3 linked regions of the Homo sapiens genome follow. The protein of the gene in region 2 interacts with the protein of the main gene of each other region in a pairwise test. Each region holds a gene or a part of one and is shown on either strand. Other genes may lie near its edges.

What was found.
Region 1: the proteins of CYREN (region 2) and ERCC6L2 interact in binary tests that used the Homo sapiens proteins (3 or more experiments, as listed by UniProt).
Region 3: the proteins of CYREN (region 2) and MKLN1 interact in binary tests that used the Homo sapiens proteins (3 or more experiments, as listed by UniProt).

What each region holds. Positions count from the first base shown.
Region 1 is NC_000009.12:95,920,653-95,927,759, forward strand, and holds part of ERCC6L2 (DNA excision repair protein ERCC-6-like 2), read left to right. Parts: intron 1-522; coding exon 523-663; intron 664-1,652; coding exon 1,653-1,766; intron 1,767-2,607; coding exon 2,608-2,727; intron 2,728-7,107. UniProt on the Homo sapiens protein: Promotes double-strand break (DSB) end-joining and facilitates programmed recombination by controlling how DNA ends are joined in a spatially oriented manner during repair.
Region 2 is NC_000007.14:135,167,690-135,175,729, reverse strand, and holds the start of CYREN (cell cycle regulator of non-homologous end joining), read left to right. Parts: upstream 1-5,022; 5' UTR 5,023-5,078; exon of another isoform or gene 5,079-5,454; intron 5,455-6,255; exon of another isoform or gene 6,256-6,308; intron 6,309-6,669; 5' UTR 6,670-6,807; coding exon 6,808-6,944; coding exon of another isoform or gene 6,945-6,981; intron 6,982-7,922; coding exon 7,923-7,998; exon of another isoform or gene 7,999-8,040. UniProt on the Homo sapiens protein: Cell-cycle-specific regulator of classical non-homologous end joining (NHEJ) of DNA double-strand break (DSB) repair, which can act both as an activator or inhibitor of NHEJ, depending on the cell cycle phase.
Region 3 is NC_000007.14:131,442,811-131,449,917, forward strand, and holds part of MKLN1 (muskelin), read left to right. Parts: intron 1-670; coding exon 671-892; intron 893-2,963; coding exon 2,964-3,093; intron 3,094-7,107. UniProt on the Homo sapiens protein: Component of the CTLH E3 ubiquitin-protein ligase complex that selectively accepts ubiquitin from UBE2H and mediates ubiquitination and subsequent proteasomal degradation of the transcription factor HBP1.

The sequences.
Region 1 (7,107 bases), on a different chromosome or scaffold from region 2:
AGGTTTATTTGAAAGTGAAATTATACTTTATATTATCCAGGGTGGGGTGGAGAGCAAAGAATATAAGACAGTCAGTAGAAATCATCATAATGATGTAAATAGAGGGAAAAATTAGTTTATAGCAATTTTCACTATTTTTTTTGAGACAGAGTCTCGCTCTGTCGCCCAGGCTGTAGTGCAGTGGCGTGATCTCAGCTCACTGCAACCTCTGACTCCTTGGTTCAAGCGATTCTCCTGCCTCAGCCTCCTGAGTAGCTGGGACTACAGGCGCGTGGCACCACGCCCAGCTAATTTTTGTATTTTTAGTAGAGATGAGGTTTCACCATGTTGGCCAGGATGGTCTTTATCTCTTGACCTTGTGATCCGCCCTCCTTGGCTTCCCAAAGTATTGGGATTACAGGCGTGAGCCTCTGCGCCCGGCCAGTTTTCACTGTTATAATCTATGAAATCAGATGTAGATTATGATTTTTATTATTGTTATAAACAAAATACTAATAACTACCTTGTATTTTATCTTGGCAGATGGTGTATTGTTCTTTGACAGATTTCCAGAAAGCTGTCTATCAAACAGTGTTAGAAACAGAGGACGTGACTTTGATACTTCAATCTTCTGAGCCTTGTACCTGTAGGAGTGGCCAAAAAAGGAGAAATTGTTGTTATAAGGCAAGCATTTCAATATATCTTTATAATCATGCTTTTGATTACATAGTACTCTCTTCTAGTGTAAAAGAAAGTAGCAGATGATAAAATACCTTTTCCTCAGACAGTTCTTTAAAGCTATGTCTTAAAAAATAGTTTTCAAAAATATTTTACAATATCAAATAGTAATCACATATAAAATACAATATTCAAATATATTTTCAAAAAGTTAATTGCAGAAAGTAAGCTTAATTTTGATATCCTCCATTTTAGCTTTTCTTGGGAAGTATCCTTTCATTTTGAAATTTCATTTCATTTTCAAGAAGTTTCTCATTATCCACTAATAGTAAACGAACATACTCTTGTATAGGAGGCTTAAAATACTATTCTGATGTTAGATATAGTGTCAATTTAATAGAAACTGAGTATCAAAGAAAGTGTTTTTTTTAAAGAAACAAAATTTATTTGTACTTTTTCTAACCTTTTGTTTATATTTCCTGCTCATGTTTCACCTCTGTTTTATTAAATTATGTCACATATCTGTGTACGTAGAGAAACCCTAAGTGAATATTTATCTAGTTTGATATTTATTTGGTCTCATTTATTTTGCTGTTTTTAACTACTTCCCTTTTTTGTAATAGCCCAGTTTCCTAGGAGCCTTGGAGCATAAATGAGAAGGGGTCTGCATAGCACTGCCACTGCACTTAGATTTTGTTACCAGGCACCTCGTAACAGCAACATTTCCATCACTGTGTGTCATGAGGATAAATACTTTCTGTAATAAGGATTTTCTCCCTTTATGAAAAATATAGTTGTATTATGATTTACCAAAAGTATGCTTCCACATTAGCTATTTGTGGATATTTTGTGCAATAGTTGACCATCATTTTCTTGGAATTTATTGTGCCAAAGTAACCCGATAATAAATGTTATTGTAAGTGATACATTTTATGATGTAAGCAGGTGCATAGCTATGCTGGTCCTTTTTATTTTCTATATTTTTCTGGTTACAGACCAATTCTCATGGTGAAACAGTGAAAACCTTGTATCTCAGTTACCTTACAGTCCTTCAGAAGGTAGCTAACCATGTCGCGCTACTGCAAGCTGCTAGTACTTCCAAACAACAGGTTTGGTTAGCATTTTACATTTCTTTGTGATGCTATTGTTGTGAATATTTTATAAAGTTTTAAAATAGTTATTAAATAAAGTTTTTGTGGATGAAATTTAAGAGGAAACTGATTTGCTTATTTTTAAATGTAGATATCAAGGAGTATGTGCACTTAAGTTTTTAATCAAAGTGAACAAATTTAAGCTTAATTTAAAATAAGAACTATCTTTTATGCCTTTAATAATGTTCATATCTTTATTTTTCAAAACAGTCTTTGGTATAATTACTAAATAACATATTTGATGGGTCAGTTCTATTCCTCTAATAATGTCTGTAATGGTATTTAATCTACTGGGTAAAATGAGGATTTATAATAATTTGTATATTAAATATTAGGGCTGTTTACCAAACTGGCAAAAATCAGTAATTTCAAAGTTTACTTTGGTTGTTTCCTTTTATTCTAGAGCACACATAAATGAAAAGATGTTTTTGTAATGATTTTATATTTTTTTCTGTTATAGTTGATGCCATTTAAATGTAATTTTGAAATCTCATAAGAATTTGATATTGTTCTTTGATAGTACTCTTTACTCTTTGGGAGTATTTAGCACCTTGTTTTGGAAATCTTAAAAAATTGAAAAGTAATGATCAAGTTAATAACCACATCATTAAGAATTCAGTGCCATACGTTTAACATATAACTTTAAGAGTTTTTGAATTCTTAGTCTGACTTAGGGAAGCAAAAATCTTTAAAGTAATACATTCTTTCTAAAAAGAATTTTTTTCATAAATTATTTCAATTTATACAGGTTTGAATGTGTTAAGTGGAAATATCTTTTCTTCTGCCTTTTCCCTTCAAGGAAACACTTATCAAAAGGATATGTGATCAGGTATTTTCCAGATTCCCAGATTTTGTGCAGAAAAGCAAAGATGCAGCCTTTGAAACACTTTCTGACCCTAAATACAGTGGAAAAATGAAGGTAAGTGCTCCTCTTTCAGGTTGCATACAGACATGATACACAAAATATTTATTCAGTGGTATGACAGAGACACCAACTAATCAGAACAGGTGCTCAGTCATTCAGAAGAGATGGTGGCTATGGACAAGTGGTGCAATTGTATCAGCATTTACTAGGTCACTATGAACCCCGAATACAGATGGTGTGCACTCGATAGGTCCTCTGTAGTAGTTGCTTCAAATATACTTCAAATTTTCCTTATTGATATATTGGACTTATGCCCTCTTAAAATGCGTGTGCTGTTACCACATAGATAATAGCTTGTCTTCAGATGTTTAAGGAAATAACCTACCAGAAATATAAAAGCTAATGCAAAACAGGGGGGTAAGGAAAGGCCTTACCTTGGAATTAGAGAAAGGAATTTCTTGAAGAGTTTAAGATGGGCAAGGTCTGTATGTCTAGAATTTTCTGCATGTTGTTTTTACTTGCAGAACTAGATCGTAAAGTTGCAAATAGTCATTTGTCATACACAGGAAAATTGACCTGTAGCTGTGCTGCTCTTGGTAATGTGTTACCGAGGGAAGGGTGGGAAAAGTAAGGCTAAGTTCTCCAACCTTGACCCAGGCCTTGGGCATTGCCTGTGGCAGCAGCATGAAATGCTGACAGCTTCCTGCCTCCTTGCAACAACAGAGTTTGTTTAACCCCTTAGTGTCTATCAAGAATCTTTATTTGTAGATTCACAGATTTTTACAGAACAAAACTCAACTTTGTTATAGTTTTTAAAAGGTAAGTTCTTTTTGACATAAAAAGAATAAAAAGGAAGTAGTTCAAAGCAGTTTTTGTTTTTTTTTTATAGAAATACTTTTAGCAATTGATCTAGATAAGTTCATCATGGTTTAGTTTGCTTGGGACCTCTAAAATCAATGAAATAAAATAGAAGGTAGGAATATACATACATACATAAAGACTATTGCATTAAAAACTTGCTTTTAAAAAATAAATGTTTATATTAATGAGGATATCATGTGATTTATTACCACAACAAATAATTCAAATCTAATGATATTTCCTAAGGTAGCAAATTTTTGTCATCCATTTCATTGACTTTAATTATTTTTAAATTAAAATATATAAAAAGTCCGGTTTAGAACTGAGCACTTACTATCCCACAGTTTAAACCAGTAGAACATTTCCAGAAATTATAGCCTCCTCTGAAAACTGCATTAGTCATTGCTACTCATTTAAATTTTATTCCCTGTGACTCTTCACTAAAAAATTGCCAGTCTTGAAATTAAGTTTTATAACTCTGCATTTTATATTTTTTATATATTCATTAATATATACTTGTAAAATATACTTTTAAAGTTAATCTCCCTAGGAATAATAGTGTCTGATTAAGAGAATGATTAAATTTAATTTTATTTTAATTTTTAGGAGGGAAAAGGTAAGCATAAATTGTTGCTGGAGGCTGGGTAGTATTTTTATATGTGAATGATGCAGGTAATTTACTTGGTTTGTGAGAGAGCACCAGCCAAACAGATGGATAGTAATAAGCTAGGGATATATTTTTAGGACTATGTTAAATCATTTGACTAACAGCATCATCTGGTCATATATTGATTTGGTAATGCAGACTTACAGGCTTATCATAGAATCATTGCCTATGGGTTTAAGAACTCTAAGAATTGAGTTGCATTTACCTTTTGAATTCAGGTGATAAAAGATCTTTGTTTAGCTTGTCTTGTCACAGGTCAGCCTGCAGGTGCAAGGACTCTGAACAGAATGCCTGCTATAATCTTTATAGCCTCAAAGCTACACTTATGACCCCACCTCTTTCTCTTGAGTGTCAGAGTTTTGACCTCAACTATCATTCAAGGGGTTAGTCACAAGTTGCAATCATTCACCTGATGAAAATCTTCACTTTTCTTTCTCTTGAGAAATGCCGCAGAGCCACTTACTGTGGAGGGTGGAAAAAAAGACAGGAATCCAGCTTGGTGCTGCTGAAGTCACACAAGGGTCATGTTCATCTTTCTAGGCCTGACTGACCAAGTTGAGGAAAGTTAAGATCCAAGGTTCCTTGCTGTTAACACCCCCAAATAATACGATTCCTTTATAGGTGGATTGTCTTGTTCTGTGGAGGACAACTGAGTGATAAAACATTGGGTCTATATTGTTAAGACTCCAACATCTGTTGATTACATTGTCATTTTGGAAATTTCTGGGATCTTAATTTATAGTCGTTCATTTAGTTAGTCTCTTTAAACTAGCCTAATTAAGATCTCCAGTCTAAAAACATTTACTTTTCCTGTGACTTGTTTTTGTTTTTACTGTAAAATACTTGAAAACACTTAAAGTTGCAATAGTTATGATACCACCCCAAATAATGAGAATGGATTTCTATACAATATATCCTTGGTTTAAAATGTTAATATCTTAAGAATGAAAAACAAACCACAGACTGGGAGAAAATATTAGCAAAACAATAAAGGACTGGTTTACAAATATACAGGTAACTCTTAAAGCTCAACAATGGGAAAGCAAACAATCCAATTGAAAAATGGGCAAAGGATCTGAACAGGTACTTCCCCAAAGAAGATAATAGAGATGGCAAATAAGCATGTGAAAAGATGCTCAACAACATATGTCATTAAAGAATTGCAAATTAAAACAGCAAGGAGATACCACTAGATACCTATTAGAACGGCCAAAATCCAGAACACTGTCAAGCCCAAATGTTGGTGAGGATGTGGAGTAACAAGAACCCCCATCTGCTGCTGGTGGGAATGCAAAATGGTATAGTCACTTTGGAAGACAGTTCAGTGGTTTCTCACAAAGCTCTTAACTAAAAAATATTACCTTAAATAGTCTTACTATATGATCCCGCAATTGTGCCCCTTGGTATTTACCCAAATGAGTTATAATGAATTAAATTTTATTGAGTTTTAATGAGTTAGAAACTTACATCCCGACAAGAACCTATGAGTTTATTTATAATTGCCAAAGCTTGGAAACAACTAAGATGTCCTTCAGTAGGTAAATGGATTAAAAAAGCTGTGGTACAGCCATACTGTGGAGTACTATTTAGCAATAAAAAGAAATGAGCTATCAAGCTACCAAAAGACATGGAAGAACCTTAGATGCATATTGCTGAGTGAAGGAAACCAGTCTGAAAAGGCTACATACTGTATAATTCCAACTATATAATACTATCAAAAGGCAAAACTATGGAGACAGTAAAAAGAACAGTGGTTGCTATGGGTTCTGGGGGAGGAAAGAATGAGTAGGTGAAGCACAAGGAATTTTTAGGGCAATGAAACAATTGTGTATGATACTGTAATGGTAGATACATGTCATGATATATTTGTCAAAACCCGTGAACTATGTAACACAATGAATAAACCCTAATGTAAATTATGGACTTTAGCTAATAATAATGTATCAATATTCACTCATCAGTTGTTACAAATAAACCACACCAATACTAATAATACTTGATGTTATATTTTCTAATAATATTATTAATACAGATATTAATAAGAGAAAGTGTGGAGGAGGTTGGAAGTAGGGAAAGAGGAGTTTTGTGCATTTTCTACTCAGTTCTGTAAAACAGAAAAAATAATATCTACCAATTTAAAAAGTCTTATGTGAAATTCAAATTACATACTTCATATAGAATCAGTTATTTTATTAAAAAATGAACTAAATGCAAATAAAACTTCATATGTTCTCCAAATGTGAAAGTAATGTTTACCCGATCCATAACATTTTTATTTACCATTTGATAAATAAATTTGGTTATCTGAGTAGAAGTTTTTTTTAACTCCATAGCTTTTTTTGAGGGACTAGGGGGAGGTAGAGGTCAAAGTTAGCACAATAGCTTCTCTTGATTGAGTAAGTGTTATATTGAGTATTTTTTTTATTTAAAAGCTTAAATGTTTATCATTAAATAAATTGTTTTAGTGTTTGTTTCATCTTTCAGAAGAATTTAGACTTTGTATAGAAAATTTCTTTTTCCCCTCTGTGGATTGCTTTTCCACATTGTTCTGGAGCTGTCATTGCCAGATGTGGAAATAAAAGTAACAGTGTGACTGTTATACACAAGGCTTTGGACTGTTTGTTTCCTCCCTGAAAGCACTGTGTGTGGGGGCAGATTACTGGCATTTTGAGGTCAAAATCAAATCTGGAAGTCAGAGCTTACTGTAAATAGAGAAACAAAGGGGAGAAAATGAGAAGAGGTGTGTATCTGACTGATTATTCTAAGAAAATAAATATCAAGACTTTTAGAACCTAGATGTAATTGAACACATTTCATTACATCCATCTAGGGACAATTTAAATACTTCCTAAAAGGAATGCTGCTCTATAATTTAGTTTCTTAGCATATTGTAGGTATAAAGAAAG
Region 2 (8,040 bases):
GTACTTATTTTCTGCTGTGTAACTTTTTTCTCAATCTAGAGAACCGCATTCTATCCCATGCTGTTTACTATTAATAGCGGCACAAGCATCAAATTTTAAGGTTACATTTTTGGGGACCCCTCTTTCTTCTGTTCTAGCTATTACCTTACTTGTGTCACCTAGAAAAGGACCAGTCCTTAATTTTATTTTAAAAACTGTGATCATGGGAGGCTTAAAATGGGTCATAACGCGCATCAGGTTGGTTATTTCCTGGGCTACATACCTTGGATAGAATAGCATTATACAAACAAGTTTCTTTTAGAGTCCTGGTACACTTATAATAACCATAAAATAATAGGACTGTAGCAATCTTTTGTCCTACCTTAGTGACTTGATGTATATACTGGAAACAGTTCTCAGTCTGAGGAAGGTCAGTTGAAGTCCTTACCGTTCAAGTCCAAATTTTAAGGAAAATGAGTCTGTGATGAGTTTCCTCATGTTTCAGCCGTGCGTGGACCAGTCAGCTTCCAGGTGTGACTGGAGCAGGGCTTGTCGTCTTCTTCAGAGTCACTTTGCAGGGGTTGGCGAAGCTGCTCCCATCCATGTACAGCTCCCAGCCTACTGATGTTTAAGGGTGGTCTCGGTGGTTGGGCCTACTAGAATAAACTGAGTCCAGATATGGTTAACTGGGCTCTCTGATACCAGGAGGAAGGTGGCAGGGTTTAGGGTGTGCAAACGTCAATGGTTATGTGGGGATTTTCACAGAGCTAGCTTTGGCATCTAGTTAGTCTAGCATTCATCTAGCATGGTGTCCTTTGGTATTTATTAAAATCACCACAGCATGGGGGGAGTTTATGTTTAGGTTTTGTGTAAGAGTTAGCTTATCTGCTTCTTGTGACAGGGCCGTTGCTACCAGGGCCCTTGGACATGGGGGCCAGCCTTTGGAAACCCCATCTAGTTGTTTTGAGAGATAGGCCACTGGCCTTGGCCAGGGCCCTACAGTCTGGGTTAAAACTCTAACTGCCATTTTTTTTGTTTCTGACACATAGAGCGTAAAGAGTTTTGTCAGGTCAGGTAGCCTCAGGGCTGGGGCCGACATGAGTTTTTCTTTTTAACTCATGAAAAGCTCGTTGCTGTTGGTTGTAATAGATGTAGTTTATCTAATCTACATTTTTATTGACTGTCATCTACCAAAATATTGACTTAAATCCTGTAACTATTTGATTTCAAGCTTTAAATTGATCTGGGACTCCTTGCGGGGCTTCAATTGCATCTAAATAGATGTGAGAGTTGAAAGACCTATAAGGAGCTTTTCTCGCTTTATGATGTCTTCTTCTTATTATTATTTTTTCCTCTTGTTGATGAAATGTCAGGGTGAAAGGGATAGCCAAATGGACTAAAGCACAAGTGCCACTCTAGTTACTCGGCAGAGTCCCCAATAAAGGTCTACCACAATACCACCACACATCCGCTTTGGGATGAACAAGGGCTGACTGATTGATAAGCTCTTGAAAATTCTTAAGCTCACTGCATCCCTTCAGGTCTCCAAGGAATGCTAAGTCTCCTCCCTGCCATGAGAGACACGTAGTGAACTTAGTGTTGGGAGATGGAAGCTGGATGGCCCTCGGGGGCTGACCTGCAGGGACTTTGGGATATAGCAGAGAGAGCTTGGCATGACTTATTACTCCAGGCTATAGAATCCTGGAAAAGAGCTACCATGCAGCCCATGCCTGGCCGACTGGAGGACCACCTTAGTGGAAGGGGGACAATCAGGGCCTCTGGCCTGCCATGTGCACAAGCATGCTAATTGCTTTTGTTTAACCTGCAGATGGAATATTTGATCCATTTCAACCAGGCATTTGCATCTTGGTATGCTGTCTTAATTGCCAAAGTTTGTTTTAAGTCTTTAACTTTTATGATCCTCTAGTAAAATGAATGCTTCCTTTAGCACCAATTTTTATTAGTTTTTAGACAAAAGAAAGCTAAACACTATTTTATATTTACTAATGCTTCCTGTATGACTTTTATACCAGATAAGCTAAATTTTACCTTTATATTAGTGTGTTATTAATGTTAAACTTAATTTTAATAAAACCTTGTAGACATATTTATCCAATTTTTTATGTTTGACCATAAGGTAAGATTTTATAGACTCTTTTTAACCTTTTATAATTTTTGTTAAAGAGCAGGTTGATGCTTTAAGAAAAACCTCTTGCATTTTTACTTTAATGTCCAGTTCACAGAAAAACTGGATGATACCTTTTTAACCTTAGCTAATATGTTTACACACAGAATTTTTTTTATAATTAACGTTTTAAAGCTTGCTTAAACTTTTAAAACAATAATTTTTTTAACCTTTTAATGTAGGTAAAAATCCACGTTTATGCCCCTTTATAATTTTTTTTTTTACCAAAGGTATATTTTACTTTTCTTATACATCTTGCACATGAACTGGTTTTTTTTTTTTAAATAGTACTCAGGAGGCCTCATTACTTTTAAATTATACAATATTTTTTGCATAAAAATTTTTTTTTATAATTTTTTTCTCACGACTTTCCCAGACAATTTTTTAACATGTCTCAATTTTTTGACTGATTAACAAACTTTTTTTTCTTTAAACAACCAGTTAATTTATTTCAGGACAAGAATTTACCATATAACTTTTTTTTAATATAAATTCTGCCTCCCCCCTTTTCTTTCCTTTTTAAAAAAGCGAACTTTCTTTATGTCTTTGGACTAGACTGTCTAAGGCCACAAGATTAGAAGTTACCAAAATACATGTTACACTGTTAACTTTTAGCAAACTTCACTTTTGTTGAAAACCTTGTAAGTTTGAGATTTCAATTATCCTTTGCTATTAATAAGAACTTGTTTAGTCTAAACTCTTAGAATTGGTACAGATGGCCTCTTTTTCTCTTTTCTGGTCGTTCCTTGGCTCTGCCAGCCGCTTATGCTGCTGTTCTCTTAACTACTGTGGTGGGGGAAAGGGGGTCTAAAACCAGCTGTAACTGTCTATGTACAGAAACCGGTCTGGGTGCTTTGGCTTACAGGTTACCTTGTGCCATACCTTTGAAACAAGGGACCTGTCCAGGCTTCCTTCTGGTGGCCAACCTACCTCTAATGCTAGCCAGTCTATTTCACACAAAGTTCTAAGTTTTCCTGGTGTCATACTAACACCGTAATCTCCTTTAAATTCTCTCTTGAAAAAAAATTTTTTTAACATAGGTCCCAGTGGGGTGGGCTTACTTTGCACCTGACCCATGTTTTTTTTTTTTTTTTTCCAGACAAAATACCACGCTCACACCACACATACCACAAGACAAAGAACAGGTAAAGAGGGCACACACACTTTTACCGTTTATACCAAACCAAAATCACGAAATTCAAAATCCGAGTACCAAAAAATTCAAGCCAAGTCAAAACCAAAACCAAAGTATCCAGCAATTCAAGTCAAGTCAAAACCAGAACAAGAGTGCCCATGCAGGCATGCTGTGGGTGATCAGGCCACGTTTCCACTCAGATGGAGTGGGGCAAGTTCCAAAGACTAGTCTTACCAAGTCAAGCCAAGTCAAAACCAGAACAAAAGTGCCAATACAGGCACACCGTGGGTGATCAGGCCACGCTTCCACTCACGTGGAGTGGGGCAAGTTCCAAAGACTAGTCTTACCAAGTCAAGCCAAGTCAAAACCAGAACAAAGATGTCAATACAGGCACACCGTGGGTGATCAGGCCATGCTTCCACTCACATGGAGTGGGGCAAGTTCCAAAAACTAGTCTTGACAAGCTTCAGATGTCTGGACTTCAAGTGCCAGTTCCTTCCCGGTGTTCAGCCAGTGTTAATCCTTCTCGGGAGCCTGCTATGCGCTGCTCTGGCAAGGCATTCCACCGGGGCCATTTCCTACCCGGGAGCGCTCTTTGGATTGCGTCAGTCAGGCTGGCCGGAGTCCTCTGCAGGGACGCTCCACAGGGCTTGTCAGTCACCTCGCTTCCTGGTCAGGGAACCAAGGACTGTAGCAGGACAAGCCACAGACAAAACCTCTCAGACACGGAGCTGTAGAAGAAAGGGCTTTATTCAGCTGGGAGCATTGGCAAGCTACTGCCTTAAAATCCGAGCTCCCCGAGTGCACAATTTCTGTCGCTTTTAAGAGCTCACAACACTAAAATTTCACATGAAAGGGTCGTGATTGATTTGAGCAAGCAAGGGGTACGTGACAGGGGCTGCATGCACCGATGGTCAGGGAGAAACAGAACAGGGCAGGGAGTTTCACAATGTTCTTCTATAGAATGTCTGGAATCTATGAATAACATCGGTTTCTAAGTCATGAGTTGATTTTTAACTACTAGGTTTAGGCCAGGCAGGCCCAGGTCCAGTTTTGGGCCTGGCGCTGGGCTGCCTGTCTTTGATTTCACTTCCTTTTTTTTTTAAAAAAAAAAAAAAAAACAGGTACTGAGTATAAAACAATATGAGAGGGTCTCTCTCTTCCCTCGCTTTAACTTTCGGAGGGCTGAAATTCTTTCTAGCCTTGGTTAATACAGCAATTCATTCCATTCTAGCTATTGTTATTTCTCTTACTATAATTTTACTATTAGTACTTACGCTATTCTATTATTTTCTTAATTTTCCACTTAATTAGGATAACAAACCGAGGCCGGGCTCCCATCCTCCTCAAGCACACGAGGGGGGCCTGGCCCAGCAGGGAGCTTCGCCTGGTTTCTGAGGGAATTCCCGGCGGGCCTTTCCAAAACATGCCCGTTCCCTTCCGCTAACTTCAGGGGCCAAGAATTGAACTTTCACCCTCCTCAAGCCGGTGGCGCTGCCTCGCTGGCGTTCCCAGCGCGCAGCCAACCGGATGCCAGCCGGCGGCATTACCACTGCCAGCATGGGGCGCCCGCGGACCTCCGACTGAGGCAGCTGCCGGGAGCCGGAAGTGTCCCGGGCGCCGGGACTGCGAGGGGGCCGGGAGTTCCCCAAGACCGGAAGTGTCCCGAGGCCGGGAGCCCGCGGGACCCCGGAGCGCGCGGGGCCGGAAGAGGCGGGCGGCCAGTGGAGGTCCGCAGAGTTTGGGCGCCAGGCGAGACGGCAGGGCTTAAAGTTCCGGGTGAGGCGTGGGTCCCACAACCGCTTGGAATTTGCCTCCCGGCTCCGCTCTGGAAGCTAAGAAGGGGCACGAGAGCCGGAGACGGGAACCTGAGAGCAGGGAAGCCAGTAGCCGGCCGGAGGAGCGCGCGGCCGCTCCAGTCGGAAGGAGCCGTTGCAGCCCTGCCCGGCGTGTGGCGGGGTCAGCGAGGCCCCTGCGGTGCTTCGCCCGCGCCTTCCGCTCCGCACTCACCCGCCCTCTGGGCCTCCCACAGGTCGGCGCCGCCAGCGGCGGGTACCGGCCCGCAGAGGGAGGGCGGGCTGTGAACTGGCAGCACATCGCGTTCCCGCGGGGCCCCCATTCTGCCCAGGCAGGGAGCGGCTGGGATGGGACTGAGGTCGGTCCGCGAGCGCGGTGCCCCAGAGACCCGGCTTCTGGAAGTTGCCGCGGCCTGCTCTTGGGGCCCAGAAGTAGGGCGGGGAGGCGCGGGGTCTGGAGTCTGCAGGACCTGGCTGCGAATCCAACCAGCTGATTTCAAACTTTTCTGTGATCTTCTGCAAGTTAACTAAGTCTCAGTTCCTCGTTTGCGAAATGTACTTAATAGGCACCCCAGGGTGAACTAAATTTGTCCGCACAGACTGCAGCATTGCGCTTGGGAGGCGCCTTAGGGGGTAGGAGTCACTAATATCACTGAGTTTTGACAGAAATGAAGGTGCATTGGCAAAGGTGTGCCCCATGGCCGGGCAGGTTAGGAGGAGGGCCTGGTAATATTTTTTCTTAAATTGTAAACAGCCATCTGGATGAGCAATGCATTATCAAATTATGATTCAGAGAGGACTATCGCTGACTACTCTTTTTTTTGGGCAAACCTCCGCTTCAGGAGCTTCTGGCTTGATTCCTAAGTGGAAGGTAGAGACCTAGGCCCTCTGAGTCACAACTCCATCTCTCTGGGTGAGGACTGAGCTCCAGGACTGCTGAGTGGAGGCAGAACAATTGGGATAGGGAAAAGAGAGGCCAAACTAGATCAGAGGCTGGCGTGGGCTTCAGAATCTACAGACTGGCACAGTTAATGCCTCCGGGCCCCTATTGCTGCTTCAAGTTTGACCAATCAGAAGTATCTTTAGCTTAAGGGCGGCGTGTTGGCCAATGAGACTTTATTGTGAAATAAAATGCCCTCAGTTTCATTTAACTGAGCCACCATAGAAGAGTAGAGAAATCGAGTTGGCCAGATGAGGGAGAGGCCATTAAGAGGTATTTTAGGGATTGAATGGGCTGGGCACCCAGAGGACAGTGGCATTTGGGGTGGTAATGAGAAGGAACATTAGGGGCCTCCGCCTCCTTCCGTTCCTCCTGTGCTGAGTCAGTCAGCACAGAGGCTGCAGGAGGTATCTCTGGTTGGCTTTGGCTGCCTGTAGGGGGCACCAGCTTTGGGGAGGTCAGAGGGCTCTCTCCTGAGCTGCTGTCCTGCCCACAATCACACCTGCCTGATGCCTGTGAATGGCCGTCTGAGTCTCTTGGGCCTTGGTCACTTCTGGCCTGCCCTGCACCGACCAGTAACTGTGCCTGATGACTGGAGGTATGGGAATTCACCGGACTTTATTGTTCTTTGTAGGAATCAAAGATCAACTCCCACTGAGGACAAATGGACCTGTAATTCCGGGTGTGACGAGAGAACGAGATTTACCTTCCTGAATTAAAAAACAGGTCATTAAGCTTGGGCCCTGACTCTTCTTTGTGAGAAGGTACAGAGATGGAAACCTTACAATCCGAGACTAAAACGAGGGTCCTTCCCTCATGGCTGACAGCCCAGGTGGCTACAAAGAATGTGGCACCAATGAAGGCCCCCAAGAGGATGAGAATGGCAGCAGTGCCAGTGGCAGCAGCAAGGTGCGACAGCTCTGGTCAGAAGACTCCTGCGAATCTGGCAAGTGGAGCAGGGGCCTCCATGACCTGGGCCAGGTCTTCCAGCCTAGGCAGAACAGCAAGATGGGCGGGTGTTTCAGTCTGATCATCTCTTGAGCTTTTAGAAGGTGGAGGGGCTGTGGGCGGGAGGCAAAGCGGGTTAACCCTCGAGGACAGGCACCCACTTCTGCCTCTGCACTGGTGAGTGCCCTGCCCTCAGCACACACAGAGTGGGTTCTCCATGTCAGCCAGTCTCTGATGCCAGTTGTCCAGAATGCCAGTCTCTTCCTTTACAACAAACATGGTAACATCAGATGGGCAAGATCAGTGGAAGGGTCTGTTCTGAGTGGTGCCTGCCCCTGTGGACAGACCTTTAGGGATGGACAGATGAGCAGCAGCTGCAGGGCCAGCAAGAGCTAAGGAGCTGGGGAGTGAGTTAGTTGAATGACGGTAATTGCCGGGGGGGGGCGGGGGGGGGGTGGTGAGTCTCCAGGCTGCACTGTGAAGTGGGCGGGGCCCCAGCACTCGGTGTTTCCCTCTCTGGCTCCTCCTCCTCTAAGGTTTCCTGACTGACAGCCTTCCCTTGTGACTGCTGCCGTCTTTCCCTAAGTCTGGTCCTGCTTTCAGGTTCCTCTCAGTACAGCCTCAGCCCGAGGTTCCCTTCCTCTTGCATCCATGTGTGTGTTTCAGAGGCGGCCATCCTTCCCTACTTCCAGATCCTTGTAGGGCAGTTGGTGGAGGGTGGGAGGCACCCCGGTGTTGCCTCCATGAAGCCCTGTGCCAGTCACTGGGCTGCAAGGCTGAGGAAATTGTGTCCGTGTCAGAAAGCTCCTCAGCTCAGAGGTGCTGGTACCTCCTGCGTGGTAGGAAGGCAGGGGGAAGAGGCCCTGCTTCTCCTGTTCTCTTTGCCCTTATGAGACTTGAGAGTCTGTGTCATCTGTGCCTTGCATGTCTTTTTTTCAGACTCCCTGCGACAAGGACTGTGTACTGCATGAATGAGGCTGAGATAGTTGATGTTGCTCTGGGAATCCTGATTGAGGTAAAGTCAGACAAGCCTCTTACTCATGACCAGAAACTCTGC
Region 3 (7,107 bases), 3.7 Mb from region 2:
AAAAGTTATAATCTTGAGTTGAAAGAATGGAAGAATAAAGCTTGACTTTTAAACATGAAGTGTATAGCTTAATTCAAAGAAAATTAAATAGTGCTATGTTAAAAGTAGGCAGAGTTCTTCACATTGTAGAAGTCAGTCTGGAGACTTGATTGTTGTAAATGTCCTTTTGTTTGTTTGTTTTACTGTTTTGTAACATAATCTGAAGGGTTTTATAAAAATAAATGCAGAGAGGTGAATTTAGCTTCACCACTCTTATTTGCATATCTGATCGCTTAGTAAATGGTAGTAATATTAATAGGATGCTTGCCTAGAATGAAAGAAGGGAATTTTTATAAGGAGGGTATGATCACTATTCACCCAGAATATAAGTATTCACTCTTACATATAAATCAACGCCTCATGTATCATTGGTTGATTTTGATAAAAATTATGCAATTTCAAGAAAGCAGAAAGCTCTTTATTCCAACATGTTTTTACCCTCACTGACAAAAATGACAACTTGAAAAATTATTTAGAAACTTGCATATGATAATCAGGGGTGGTATTTAGTGTCATTAGGGACAAAGTTTAGGGTTTTTTTGAGAATGTAAAACTGTACATGTTGGTTTTGTTTTAGCACATATGACAGGAACAAACTAAAACTATTCAATCTGTTGCCTTGTTCTGATAGATGTGTATGGACTCAGAAAAACATATGATCTACACTTTTGGTGGTAGAATTTTGACTTGTAATGGCAGCGTAGATGACAGCAGAGCCAGTGAACCACAATTCAGTGGCTTGTTTGCTTTCAACTGTCAATGTCAAACCTGGAAACTTCTTCGAGAGGACTCCTGTAATGCTGGGCCTGAGGACATCCAGTCTCGAATAGGACACTGCATGTTATTCCACTCAGTAAGAACATTCCGTACATTGCGTAAATGTTATTTTGTCATGTATATCTAGATAGGAAAAGAAGTGGTGAAATCTAATTCTTTAGGAAGAGATTAGTGTAGCAATGACAGAGAAAGACAAAACTTCTTTAACAGTGAACTGTTTGCTAATTATGAGACTCTTCCCATCAACCTGGTAATTCCTAAATAGTTACTACCTGGCTACCAACCTGGGCAATCTTATGACTAATTTCACTGCTTATGTAGATTTTGTAGCTATGTTCCTTTCTTATGCCTTTCCACTTACGTCTCTTAGTAATTAGAAGGACAATTTCTTACTCTGTTCTTATTTTCCCTTCTGCTATTCTCCATTAAGTACAAAGAATTTAAGATTTGATTTTATAGAATTAGAATTTAAATGTATCAGCAATGGTCAGGAGCAGTGGATCACTTGATTCCAGAAGTTTGAGACGAGCCTGGCCAACATGGCGAAACCCCATCCCCAGTAAAAATACAAAAATTAGCCTGGCGTGGTGACCTGTGCCTGTAGTCCCAGCCTCCCAAGTAGCTGGGATTACAGGCATGCACCACCACGCCCGGCTAATTTTTTGTATTTAGTAAAGACAGGGTTTCACCATGTTGGCCAGGCTGGTCTTGAACTCCTGACCTCAGGTGATCCACCCGCCTCTGCCTTCTGCGGTGTTGGGATTACAGGCATGAGCCACTGTACCTGGCCACTTTCTTGATGCTCAAATTTTTCTCTTTGGCTAGTAGGAGCACCCCCCACAACATATTTATGTATCTTTTTTTGTAAGAGAAAAATTAAATTGTGAATTCATACTGATATGTCTGATTCAAATAAAATATTTTTTATCTTAATGTCTTCTATTTTGTAACTTTATATCTTTTCTTTTTACCCCGACTGGAGCGCAGATCGTAGCTCACTACAGCCTTGAATGTCAGGGCTCAAATGATCCTCTCACCTTAGCCCCCCAAGTAGCTAAAACTACAGGTGTGTACCACCACACCTGGGTTTTGAGTAGTAGTAGTAGTAGTAGTAGTAGTAGTAGTAGTAGTAGAAGAAGTAGTAGTAGTAGTAGTAGTAGTAGTAGTAGTAGTAGTAGTAGTAGTAGTAGTAGTAGAAGTGGAAGTGGAAGTGGAAGTAGGAGACAGGGCCTTGCTGTGTTGCCCAGGCTGTCTCAAGCAATCCTCTCACCTTGGCCTGCCCAAATGCTAGGACTACAGGTGTGAGCCACCATGCCTGGCCTATTTTTGTGTCTTTTAAGGTTAAAATCCTGCTTCATAACATTAGTTGCTTTGTCTGTCTATAATAGCTTTCACAGTAAAGAAAACTAACAACAGAATCACTGAGTGCTGTTTAACGTTGCTTTCTGATTATTTTTCTGTTTAGGATTTAGACTTCTAGGGATGGGTAGTCAAAAAGTATGTATTAAAATCATTAGAAATACTATTTCTGTGTCTGAGTATATCTTTATATACAGATAGGTTTATTTGTTGGATTTTTTTTGCCCAAATTTTAGATTTTTTTTTTGAGTTAATTTTGTCTTCTAATTAAATAAAAGCATATACATTGTTCTAAAGTCAAAACCATACATCAAGGTATTATTTTTGGAGAGGTCTTCCTGCTCTGTTCCTGCCACTATAGGTAACTGTCTTTTATTAGGTTTTGGTTTATCCTTCCTTTGTTTTTCAAAAAAAGAAGCAATCTCTATTCTCGCTCTCGCTTGCGTGCTCTCTCTCTCACTTTTCCCCTCTCTCACATTCTCTTTCCCTCTCTCCCTCTCTTTTTGTCTGATGCACAGATATTCCTTCTTCTCCATTCCTACACAAAGGAAGAAGGAACCTGTATATATTATTCTGCACCTTGCTTTTCTTCTTTAACAGGATGTCCTAGAGATCCCCTTTTAGCAATATGTAGAGAGCTTCCTCTTTCCCTTTTATTCCAGCATAGTACTCCATTGGGATCTGTTATAAAATTACTTTTGTAGAGGTTTAAGTTTTTAAAGGATCATTCTGAGTTCTTCATGGAAGTGATAAGTTACTCCTTTCTTTTTTTTTTTCTTCTTTTTCAGAAAAATCGTTGCTTATATGTATTTGGTGGCCAGCGATCAAAGACCTATTTGAATGATTTCTTTAGTTATGATGTGGACTCTGATCATGTAGACATAATATCAGATGGCACCAAGAAAGACTCTGGGATGGGTAAGGGCATTGAGTGATTTCTTCTCTCATGTCTTAACTACTTTAGGTAGAAAACTGCAGTTCATTCTCTTTTCTTTCTAATCATTTTTCACCCTTTCTTTATTTCTTTAATTGAGTAATTCCAAGTAAGAGAAAGAAAATTCTACCAGCTTATTCAGTTCTATCTATTTTTAAATATGGGAATTACTATTTCCTTCAAGCAGAAAATATGTGAATTTCTAAATGAATTGTGTGTGTGCTTGTTGGGGGGCGGGGTAGGAAGAATCAATATCTTAAAAACTTTTTATTCTGTGTTTGCTAATTTTTTTCATCTTCTATTTTCACTGTAGTGATCTTTATATTAGGCACTAGCATAGTAGGGTGTGTGTCTTAAGGGGGGAACTTCATGGGATTGGTAACACCTTGTAAGTTTAAAAGCTCAGCATCTAGGAGGTTATTAGTAGTGGAATGGCTGGTTTGCTTAGATTATGCATATTGCCCTGGCATAATTATTAATAGTGCTCCATTCATTTTCAAAAGTGTCCTGTTTTGATCATTTATAGTTACCCTACATAGTAGTTGCTTTGCCTGTGATTATTGTACCTAAAAGAGTGGCTTTAATTAAGGTGCAATGGTTTAAAATGCTAATTTGAACAATAGAGTGAGAAATTAAATCAGCTGCTTTTCTTTTTAGCTGTTGCTTATAGATTGGTGTTTTTATTATTGGCTCTTTTGCCAAATGTGGATAAAAGCACTTGTTTCACAGACATTGTTTCTGGATATTTTATTGATTAATACAAGCTTCCTTTAAAACAAAAACAACAAAAATATTTTTAAATTAAAATATTTGTTCACATTTAAGAAGAAAAACTTGTTTTAAAACAAACAAACAAAAAAACAAAAGATAGGCAAGGCACAGTCGCATATGCCTGTAATTCCAGCTAGTCCAGAGACGGACATGGGAGGATTGCTTGAATCTAGGAGTTTAGGACCAGCCTGAGCAACAAAGCAAGACCCTGTCTCTACAAAAAGGAGGTTTCCAGATAAAAGTAGACTCAATAGATATGTTAAGCATTTGGAAGAAAAATCTGTTGATGAGTATAAATAGCATCTAATGTAAAAAACGAAGGATAGGGACACAACAGGAAAAGCGAAACTTTTTATAAAAAAGGAGACATTATCACAGTAAATTTCTTGGCTTTACAGTAAGCAGTATTTCCCTAATCATAATGCAGAACTACAGCCAGTTTAACCAAAAATTGGGATGAAATATAGTGGGAAGATAGTGTAAGTGTAGTAAACATCTTCGTCTATTACAACAGGAAATTAGTAGGTAATGTCTAAAATAGCAGCTTAGCATGTGATTTAGAAATATGGACCTGAATAGGTAATAACATTATTTACCCTATCTAAAATTGTCTTATTTACTCATTTATTTACTGTTGCCATAGGAGAGTGTAGAGCTATATGATTTAATATTTGACTTTCTCTGGCTTTTAAGAGTTATTCTAACTTACCATTAAAATAACTAGGAGGGTCAGGCGCAGTGGCTCATGTCTTTAATCCCAGCACTTTGGGAGGCTAAGGTGAGAGGACTGCTTGAGCCCAGGAGTTTGAGACTAGCCTGGGCAGCATAGTTAGCCCTCATCTCTATAAAATAAAAATAAAATAGCAGGAGAGAGGTAATACTCCTTCTACAATCCTAAGATGGGTCTCCCTGAAAAAGGTAGTGAAGATAGTAATTGATATGACAATATGTTGAAAATTATGGCATGCTGACTCAGTGCTAGACTACGGACACAGTGGATACAAGGCAATCACAGTCTCTCAAAGTGCTTATAATCTAGCTAGTAGGTAATGTATTCCCATGGATAATAATTACTACTCTTTATTTAGACCCTACCATATACCAGAATATCTTTAATTGGTGGTATTATTCTAATGTACAAGATGAAAACAGTTACACAACTACGTAATGACAGAGCTGGGATTTAGAAGTTTGAGTGCAAGGAAGGTGTTTCTGCCATGCTAAACTACTGCCCAAGATTAAAAGAAAAAAGTGGCGGCCACGTGAGGTGGCTTACACCTGTAATCCCAGCAGTTTGGGAGGCCAAGACAGGTGGATCACGAGGTCAGGAGATCGAGACCATCCTGGCTAACGTGGTGAAACCCCATCTATACTAAAAATACAAAAAATTAGCTGGGCGTGGTGGCGGGCGCCTGTAGTCCCAGCTACTCGGGAGGCTGAGGCAGGAGAATGGCGTGAACCCGGGAGGTGGAGCTTGCAGTGAGCCGATATCACGCCACTGCACTCCACCCTGGGCGACAGAGCGAGACTCTGTCTCAAAAAAGAAAAAAAAGTGGCAATGCGTGATAGTGACAGAGAACTAGTAAAATAAAAATTCACCATGACAAGTAGGCTTTAATGACTGTCATTCAAAACAATTTTTTAATGAGTTAAAATTATGTAGTAATGTACAGTATCGACAATTATTCTTCAATCATGGTTATGGCTAGCTTTAGAGCAGTGTGGCAATTATTCTTTTTATTTAATTTTGTTGTGGTCATAAAAGTAAAAATATGCTCATTGTAGAGAATTTGAAAAATAAGATGCAAAAAAGAAAATATGTCAAACTGTCCAGAGATAACTTGTTAAAATTTTGATATATTTCTGTCTAGTCTTTTTAAAACTTATTTATTGTATAAAAGTTGATACAAGTTTGTATTCTATTTTAAAATTTACATTAAATTGTGGGATTTTTTCCATTATTGTGGTTTTATTAATGTGAACTGGAGATGTTATTAGAAAAGACAAATGGATTCATTGTTTGATTACTGCTATAATCAATTTTTCTAAAATCAAAATCACCATTTTTTACTGTGTGTGTTCAGTGTGTAATTGGTTTACACAATTGAATTTTCCCACAATGCAAATAAATTCATTAATAATATTTGTTGACCATCTACTAGCATCTAAGTTTGTCCCTCTCCCTTCCTCCTTCCCTCCCCACTTAGTTCATTGTCTTCTGTAGGCCCAAGATTATTTTAGGCACTTGGGATTCATCTATGGACCTGGAGGATAAGATCCTTTCCCTTAGAGGACTCACATTCTAGTGGAGAGAGACCTGCAGTTGTGTTCTAAGTACTGTGAATAAAATACACTGGATGCCGTGATAATGAATAACAAGGGAAGTCTCATTTAAACAGAGTAGGTTGGGAAACCATCTTTGAGGAGGTAATCTTTAAGATTTAAGATGAAAAGTAGAGAATTAGGAAGAACCATGTGAAGAACTGAGAGAAGAACAAGTACAGAGTTCCCAAAGCAGGAAGGAACCTGGGATGTTCAGAAATAGTGGGACTGGTACGTATTGAGGATTGGAAAAGTTGGTATGAAACTAGGTTAGAGCTACGGAGATAAGAGTCAGAGTATTTAGTGCCTTGTTACAAATGCAAGGAGTTTGGATTTTTTTTCTGAATAAAATAGATTATTCAAAGGTTTAATATCAGTGTCTTGATCTAAGTTTTAACAATACCACTTCTTTGTCTAGGTGTATATTTTCCAAGTGGTTAATTTTGACAATGTTCCTGTGAGTTGCATTGTTCAAAGGCTTGTTTACTGAGGATTTTTATGGCAGGGTTGAGCATCTGGTTAGAATTACTTGGAAAAATTTCCCACCTAAAACTGTTGCAGTTATACTTGGAATTGAGGAACCTCAGTGACTCTGTTAGCACATTAGAGTGAAATGGAAATTATTCTCTTTTTTTCTGTTTTTTTTTCCCCTCATCTCTGCCTCTCTCACTTTCTTCCTTTTCCCTCCTTCCCATTCTTTTTCCCATGTCCCTTTTACTCCTCCCCCAACTTTCTCTCTCCTAGAGGATTCTAATATGCGGCTGGGATTGAGAACCACTGTTCTAGCTCTCCGGAGTCTATTTCAGTCCTTAGTTAACCTTAAGCAAGTTACCTAATGTCTCAGCTTTTGCTTCCACATTTGTAAATGACCCAAATTAGATTTTAAGGAAAATAGCGTCTCTGTC